Regions from separate parts of the Homo sapiens genome. Here regions 2 and 3 are each linked to region 1. The links come from fine-mapping of genetic effects on gene expression. A gene starts in region 1. Each other region holds a variant in brackets. All regions are shown on one strand. Distances are from middle to middle.

Region 1 (2,762 bases):
TGTGTCCTTTTGACATACATGAGCTATTGATATTAGGAAAAATCCTCTCTCACTCCCCAGTGTTTTGACAGGGAATCAACTACACAGAGGATGCCATAGGACATTCTATTTTTCACAACAATCGAAGGAGCCAAATGAATTGCAGAAGTCACCATTTTTAATGAGGAAACACTGAATTGGCAAAGCTAACGTGAAATAAGACCTGACTCCAAAATCTAAAATGTCCTTGAAGAACACTTCAAGGTCTAGCGCGTAAGTATGCCAAGCATGAAGAGTTAACAGATCACCAACCATCCCATGACAGTCAGTCCTCCCTGTTTTTAGAGACAGAATCTCGCTCTGTCGCCCAGGATGGAGTGCAGTGGCGCGATTATAGCGCACTGTAAACTGAACTCCTGGGCTCCACCCATCCTCCTGCCTCAGCCCCAGAGTAGATGGGAACACAGTCGCCAAGTCTGTTCTTGAGTTTCAGGACAGGGTCAAATGTTATAGTGCATGTATTCATTTCAGCACTTATTGAGTGCCTAATAAAGTCTGGGAATAATACAACTTTATTAGTTAAGTCCCTGCCCATGGCAGTAGGGGAGAAGCAAGGATGGAAACCCTCAACAAATAAATCTAAACCTATCAAATATTAAGTCATGATCTTGGAGGGCGGGGAGGAAGGCAGCATAAGAGATTTAGAGGACAGCTGCGGTTGCCAAGATCTTTCTGAGGCAGCATAATACAGGGCTTAAGAGTGAGACCTGCCGGGCACCGCGGTGGCTCAGGCCCAACACTTGGGGAGACCTAGACGGGTACATCACTTGAGGTCAGCCGTTCGAGACCAGCCTGGCCACTACGGCGTTAACACCGTCTCTACTAAAAATACAAAAATTAGCGAGCGTGGTGGTTCTGTGCCTGTAGTCCCAGCTGCCTGGGAGGCTGAGGCACGAGAATCACTGGAACCCGGGAGGCGGAGGCTGCAGTGAGCCGAGACCGCGCCACTGCACTCCAGCCCGGGCTACAGTCTTGTCTCAAAAAAAAAAAAAAAAAAAAAGAGTGTGGGACCCATTGCATCAGGCTGTGTAACTGTTTCTTACTAGCTGTATACCAGTGGCAAGTTACTGAACCATTTGTGCAAAATGTTAATTTATTTACCAACACTGTGTTCAGCTTGCCAGGCACCGTTCTCCTTGAATCTCACAGCAGCCCTGTGAGTAGGCACTACTGTTACCACCGTCACTTTGCAGACAGGGAACCCGAGGGACAAAGAAGTTAAGGGATTTCCTCAAAGCCACAGCTAGGAAGAGCGGCAGAACTGCGATTCCAATCCATCAGTGTGCCTCCACTATCCCTATTCCTTAAGATCGTGCCAAAGGCTGAGTCACTTGCACTAAGTAGCCTAGAACAGTCTCTGGGGAAACGCGCCCGCCGACAAGGATCGCCAGAACCGGCGCGGGCACCGCGCGGCGACCAGGAGCTCTGGTCACCGAAGGCCAGGCTGGAGGCCAGAGCAGCCGCCCGCACCCGGTCACCGCCTCGACAGTGGAGACCTCAGCTGACCGCGAGCCCCCGGCCCGCCCGCACCCCTTCTCATGCCCCCAGGAACCCGCCAAGCCGCTCCAGCCTCACCTCCTCCTCCCTCCATCGCGAGATTTCCAACAGCGTTTTTAAAAAAAAAAAAAAAAAAAAAAAAAAAAAAAAAAAAACCGGAAATGGGTCCTACCATCTTCTCGGAGCCGGAGTGCGAAGAAATAAAGAAATAGTGCTTTAAGTCAATGAATTCCTCCTTGGGACCCACTATCGAGAAACTATCAGTGGTAACGTTTTAAAAAATGACAAATTCAATCTGCTCTTGACTTGTGTGTCCTAAGATTTCCACTAAGTGTCTTCAAACCTCCCCCTCCCCGGCTTCCTGGATAATAGAAGTTCCCGAAGGCCGCCGATTCCAGAAGATACTGTCTGGCGTGAAATTAGTCTCAGTAGAAACATAAGTCCCGCGCGTCTTGTGCTGCGCGTGCGCAAGCTTTTGGGCCCTCCCGAGAAAGGGAAGTGCATTCTCGCTTCCGTAGCGGTCTCCGCCGGTTGGGGGGAAGTAATTCCGGTTGTTGCACCATGGCGTCCATGGGGACCCTCGCCTTCGATGAATATGGGCGCCCTTTCCTCATCATCAAGGATCAGGACCGCAAGTCCCGTCTTATGGGACTTGAGGCCCTCAAGGTAATGGCACAGGGACCTGCTCGCGGTGGGCTAAGGGGAGGTGGCCGAGGCCGTGGCTCTGCGCCTGCGCGAGTTGAGGAGCGGCTCTGCCATGTGCTCCCCGGAAAGGTCGAGAATCTCCGTCTCCCTGCGGTCTCCGGCCGCTCAGCCCGCTTACTGAGCTCGGGAGACGCCGGCGCCTAATCCTGGGCTCGGAATGTGGGGGCCAGCCAGGCTGGGCCGCCAGCGCCCTTCGGAGCTGGGTGGGGCCGCTCAGTCCGGTCGCCCGCGGGAGCAAAGCGGGACCGCCTCCCCGCCCGGCTCCTCCAGCCTGACGGCCGCGTGGGACTGCGCTCCAGTGGGAGGGCGCCGGGGAGATGCTCTGTCACCTGTCGGTTAAGGCGCTGCTGCTTAACCTTTCGCTGGTCCACCCGCAACGGCCCTTCCGTTTTCTTTGTCACTCGTAAAGGTGTGGTCACTTAACAGGGTATTTCATTTCTGAGTGCTTTTTTGCCCACCCTTGAGGAAAAATAGCGAAGAGTGAAAAACGGACGCACATAACCGTAATACAAGGTGGTGTG
Region 2 (2,762 bases), 240 kb after region 1:
CCTGCACCTTATTCAAATGTAGATTCTGATCCTTAGGTTCTGGGTGGGGCCTGAGATCCTGCACCTCTAACAAGCTCCCAGATGACAAGCATCCAAGATCACACTTTTCCTAGCTCTGGATCACACTTTTCCTAGCTCCTAGCAGAATCTCAGGCTCATCCCAGCCTCTTGAGCCAGAATTCAAATTTTCACAAGAGCCCCGATTCGTTCAGATGTGCATTAAAGTGTGAGAAGCCCACACTGGATCACTGAGGGAGGTCGCAGTTGCACCTGGGGAACCAGGAACCGTGGAGGCATGAGCCCATCCTGGAGACCCTGATTTAGTTGGTGGGGAGTGGCCTGGACATCGATTGCTGCCTATTCACAGTGGTTCTTGATTTTGCTGCCATTAACATCACCTGGGGAGCTCTGAAAGGCGTCCCCGTGATGTTAATAGGCAGCAAGATCGGGAACTACTAGGCTGCGGGTTCCTCAGGTTCTAATCTATGATGTCATTGGCTTTATCAGGGCAATTTTTCCTGGCCACATTAGGCAGGAGAGGTGCCTGTGCATCTCAGAAGTGTCTATGGAACTCTGCTTCTGAACTTCCCAGCACGCTCAAAACAGGACCTGGTTTACAGCAAAGGGCCAGCTCCTGGCAACATCATGAAACAAACGTACACTATCCTCTACCCAGGGTTCCCTTCAGCCTATAGGTGCCCGACGGCCCCTGCTCTGTGCTCCATCCTGACATCAGGAAACCCACGAATGGGAGAAAATCTCATGTCACCTGTTTACAGGTGAGTGAACATTTAAGTCAATGGGTTGCTCTCTCCTGGGGAGCTCTAATTGTAGAATTTAAGAGGGCAGAGTGAAGCCAGTGGGAGTCCTGCCAGGTTTGAGTCACAGCTTGGCCACTTATGAGTCCCTCTCATTACCCCACCAGAGCCCGGCGTCCTGATGCATAACACCCACCACCCGGCTTAGGGAGGGCTGACAGAGTGAATTACTGACAGAGGATGGCCCTTGGCCATTTCTGCTTCCTTCACTTTCCCATCACTGCCTTAGAATCTGGAGAGACTCATGCTGGCTTCACCTGGACAGGCATCCTGACACGCAAGCGAGGATTGCTCCCACCAATTTTCTGCGAGAGAAACAGGGGTTCGGTTGATTCCTGGCAACACGTTCGTGTGGGGATGCACGTGGGGGTGCAGAGCTGGACTTGGGAGATGCTTCAGCTGATAGCACACTTTTCCTTTGGGGAGTTTTCTTCCTGCTGTTATAACACCTGTCTCCAAACAAAGCCTTCATTGGTCAACAGTGAATGATTCATTTATTCTGTGCATAGACCTATGGCGTGAGATGCATTTGGAAACCTTGAGAACAGCGGTTCCCAACCTTGGTGCTTGGAGTAATGTCCGAGGACATTTTTGGTTGTCACAACTGGGGCAGGGAACTGTTGCTGGCGTCTAGTGGGTGGGGTCCAGGGGTACTGCTAAA[C/T]GTCCTGCAGGGCAGAGGCTAGTGCCACCGCAGAGAATGATCCAGTGCAAATGTCGCTGGTGCTGAGAATCCTACTTCAGACCCAGGGCAAGACTGATTGCATGTGTTCATTTATATCTGCTCTTGTAGTCATTCAGTCAAGAAATGAGCACCTTGAATGACTATTAAATCAAGACAGGTTGGGTGTGGTGGCTCACACCTGCAATCCCAGCACTTTGGGAGGCCGAGGCAGGTGGATCACTTGAGGTTAGGAGTTTGAGACCACCCTGGCCAACATGGCGAAACCCTGTCTCTACTAAAAATACAAAAATTAGCAGGGCATGGTGGTGCATGCTTGTGATCCCAGCTAATTGGAAGGCTGGCGCACGATAATCACTTGAACCTGGGAGGAAGAGGTTGCAATGAGCAGAGATTGCACCGCTGTACTCCAGGGTGACAGAGCAAGACTGTCTAAAAAAAATCAAGACAGATCTCTGAGACTCCACAGGTCAATGGAAGATGAACAGAGGGGCGGTGGGGCTGCCCCCCACCCATGTGGGAGGCATGGGCAATGCCTAGGTTGACCAGCTGCCCATGCTCTGAGGCAGTAGTCTCAGGGCAGGGTGTGCACCCTCCCAGGCAGGGCAGCACTCACTTATGGTACAGAAGGAATCTTAGAGCTTCCCTTACTCAGGAATGAAATGAGCTCTAGCCCCTGCCATCACCTTTTGCTCAACACTCACCCACTCCAGGCTTCAAAAGGAGGCTGCCCACATGGACAGCTCAGAGGGACTCCAGGGCACGTGGTTGATGGAGAAGCCAGATGCAGAGTGGTTCACTTGGGGGTGCAGTTCAGGAAGCCACGGGGTGGGTGTGAGGGTGTAGTGGAGCGTATCAGTGCAAGGATACCCTGAGACTGGGGGTGACATTGACTCCACAGGCACGGGAAGGAGCTTGGAAACAGACTGAACTCAGAACATGCATGTCACGAGGGGAGGGGCTGGAGGCTTGGGGTTGGGAGAGGCTGCCTCCACTGCTGAGGGCACAACTTCCTGGTTCAGCCCCGGCAGGCCTGCAGATCCCCCTGCATCCTTTCCCTGAAGATGGGCCATCTGTGCCTAGACAGGTTGGCATGTGTATTAGATTCTTAGGGCTGCCACAGCAAAGAACCACAGACTGGGGGGCTTAAATAACACAAGTGTATTTTCTCACAGTCTAGGAGGCTGGAATTGCAAGGAGCTCAGGGTGTCAGCAGGGCTGGTTTCTCCTGAGGCCCCTCTCCTTGGCTTGCAGGTGGCCGCCTT
Region 3 (2,762 bases), 23 kb before region 1:
GTTCCAAAGTTGCTTCCACATTTTCGGGCATCTTTTCAGCAACATACCAATTTACTGTATTAGTCTGTTTTCACGCTGCTGATAAAGACATACCTGAGGCTGGGCGATTTACAAAAGAAAGAGCTTTAATTGGACTTACAGTTCCATGTGGCTGGAATATCTTACGTGAATGGTAGTAGGCAAAAAGAGCTTGTGCAGGAAAACTCCCCCCTAAAATAACCATCAGATCTCATTAAACTTACTCACTATCATGAGAACAGCACAGGAAAGACCTGCCCCCATAATTCAATCACCTCCCACCAGGTCCTTCCCACAACACGTGGGAATTCAAGATGAGATTTGGGTAGGGACACAGCCAAACCATATCAATGCCTCTATAAACCCACCAGGAACACTTCTAGAAAATGTTGAACACCTCCGAGGCCCCACAGAACCCTCCTCTACCCACATCTTCATGGCAAGGAGCTACCATGGATCCCCCTCCGAGTGTGCCCAGACCAGTTACAGGACTGGTTACAGTGGAAGGCAACTGAGAGGCATAGAGCAAGAGCTGCCCTCCCACTAAAGTCACACACCACAGAAAGAACTCATTCTTCATAAGAAGACTGGAGCTACTGAAAAAGGGACAGACACTAGCTGCCAAAAACCTGGCTGAAGTCCACAACATCACATCCCCTCATCTCAGACTCACACAGGTGCTCTCTACACCATCACACTGTTTACTTCAGAGAACTCCACACACACTAAGATTCCCTTGCTTATTTGTTTGTCTCTCCTTTCCAGAATAGGAATTCCATGAGGCCAGGGGCTTTGCATGTCTATTTACCGCAGAATCTCAGAGCTTCTTCTACAGTAGATACTGAATACATATTTGTTGAATGAATGAATGTGTCCCCAGATGTTTCTCATTTAAATGAAAATGATCAAACTGACCAATTTTTATAAGTTTAGTTAAAGATGTGACCATCTTACTTCATTACATCTCCATTAAGACAGTTTGGTATTTCAGTTACAGGTGTATGACTGGGAGTTCAATTCTTTTCTGTGATAAGTACGAATGACTCAAGCTACCATTCAATATTCACTTTACAGATATATGAAGCTTGTCTACTCACGTTCAAAGGTTTTCCTTAATTCGTCTTTTATCTAAATCAGTCAAGTCTCTTCTCATAAATGAGAAATATTAAATGAGTGGCAGCTCTCAAGAAATAAAAAAGTGACTAGCAGAAATAATCTGCAACTTCTGTGAATAAGATTTTTCTCAGTGTCTAAAATAACAAACACCATTTATGGACCAAAGACTAGGTGCCATGAGTTTTAGAAATTG[G/A]TCCCCACTCCACTGTTATGTGTACCATTATCCCAGTGGCAGAGATACACAGAAAGCCAAGGCTCAGAGGCAGTAAGTCATGGGTCCGAGGCCTCTTGCTGATGACAAAACTGGAATCTGAACCCACGTCAGGCTTACATTTACACATACATGTATACAAATGTACACATATACAGCTTAGATTCCATAAAATACAGTAATCTAGTGGTGGAACAAATTATTTCTAATAAATGTTATAAAATATAAACGCCTCTCTGAATCCTTTAGAAAATTAATTTTGCCATGAAGTACAAAAAGGAAAGAGATACAACTTAAGTATGAACAAAGTTATAGGATACTACAAACAGTTGGTAATATATACTGTCTTTAAAAATCATTTCTCCTTATCGAGGCATTAAGCCATATTGTTTATAATGTGAAGAGCTATTGGCATCTTATTTTCCTACCCATAACCATGACCATCACTTATTCATCTTTTCATGCATCCAGGTGCATGGAAAGGCAGTAAGTACAATTTTTAAGAAAATAGCATCAAAAGCAGATTTTAAATCTACCTGTTTTTCTTCGTTTGTTTTCTCCAACAGTTAAGGAAAGTAATAGTAATTTCTCATTCCAAACCAAAGACAATTATGCTCCTTTGCTAAGGACACAGCTGTAAGTCTCTACAAGATCAGGGAAGACTACAATATTTCAGAAAAACACTCCCAGTCAAGTTTATGCTTGAATGGGCAGCTGGAAATGCATCGATGTACAGGGCCTCTTTTCACGGCCTCTAAAAGTGCTTGCATCATATGCCCACACTGTGTCTATCCCCTCCCCCGTGACGTGGTCTGGAGTCCAATGTGGGAAAGGGAACCGGCAAGCAATAACTCGTGCATCATCCTCAAGTTCACGTTCAAGTTTCTTCTCCAACTGCAGCATCTGTGGAGAGTAACAGCTATTATTTTAGTGAGCAGTGAGTCAGAGGAAATGATCCCAAAATTTCCTGTTTTTAAGAGTCCCTGAAAATACCTGAGCAAAAATTACTACTTGTTAAAAAGAGCACTCTGGGACACAAACACATAAACAAACAATCCATTGAAATACAGAAGATACACTGACAGCAGTTGTAAGAACACCTTCTAGTATTAATTATAAAATATGCCATTTTTAGCAGATGTCTATCATAGATTTATAGTTTTCTAAATAAAATCAGGATGTGGCAGTAATTTTAATAAGAAGCAGTTTTAAATAACGCACTTCAACACTTCAATATACCTAGTCTCATATATTTAAGACATTATTTTTCCACCATTTTTTAAGAGAGAGGGGTCTTGTTATGTTGCCCAGGCTGGTCTCAAACTCCTGGGCTCAAGCAATCTGCCCACCTCGGCCTCCCAAAGTGCTGGGATGACAGGCGTGAGCCACTGCGCCCAGCCACATTTTTGCACATTTT

Which allele goes with the higher level. Positions count from the first base shown, and alleles are read on the strand shown. Sizes are in standard deviations (SD) of each study's normalised expression. Not every link is listed here.
As copies of G replace A in region 3, the expression in skeletal muscle of the gene that starts at base 1,645 in region 1 goes down (moderate effect, 0.75 SD a copy in GTEx).

The links.
Region 2: its variant is fine-mapped to the expression of ATPSCKMT in fibroblasts (GTEx, PIP above 0.99).
Region 3: its variant is fine-mapped to the expression of ATPSCKMT in skeletal muscle (GTEx, PIP above 0.99).

What each region holds. Positions count from the first base shown.
Region 1 is chr5:10,248,244-10,251,005 of GRCh38, forward strand. It overlaps ATPSCKMT (ATP synthase c subunit lysine N-methyltransferase), which reads right to left and starts at 1,645. Exons shown (of 5, transcript NM_199133.4): 1 at 1,615-1,645. The coding sequence starts at 1,630. It overlaps CCT5 (chaperonin containing TCP1 subunit 5), which reads left to right and starts at 2,037. Exons shown (of 11, transcript NM_012073.5): 1 at 2,037-2,202. The coding sequence starts at 2,098. RefSeq lists silencers at 1,415-1,534, 1,545-1,604, 2,355-2,424, 2,495-2,634.
Region 2 is chr5:10,490,648-10,493,409 of GRCh38, forward strand. No RefSeq gene overlaps it. Among named protein-coding and RNA genes, the nearest start is that of LINC02212, 11 kb to the right of the region's middle. The variant C/T (reference allele first, on the strand shown) is at 1,480.
Region 3 is chr5:10,225,400-10,228,161 of GRCh38, forward strand. ATPSCKMT (ATP synthase c subunit lysine N-methyltransferase) reads right to left here. Exons shown (of 5, transcript NM_199133.4): 5 at 108-2,248. The coding sequence ends at 2,042. Among named protein-coding and RNA genes, the nearest start is that of ATPSCKMT, 23 kb to the right of the region's middle. The variant G/A (reference allele first, on the strand shown) is at 1,328.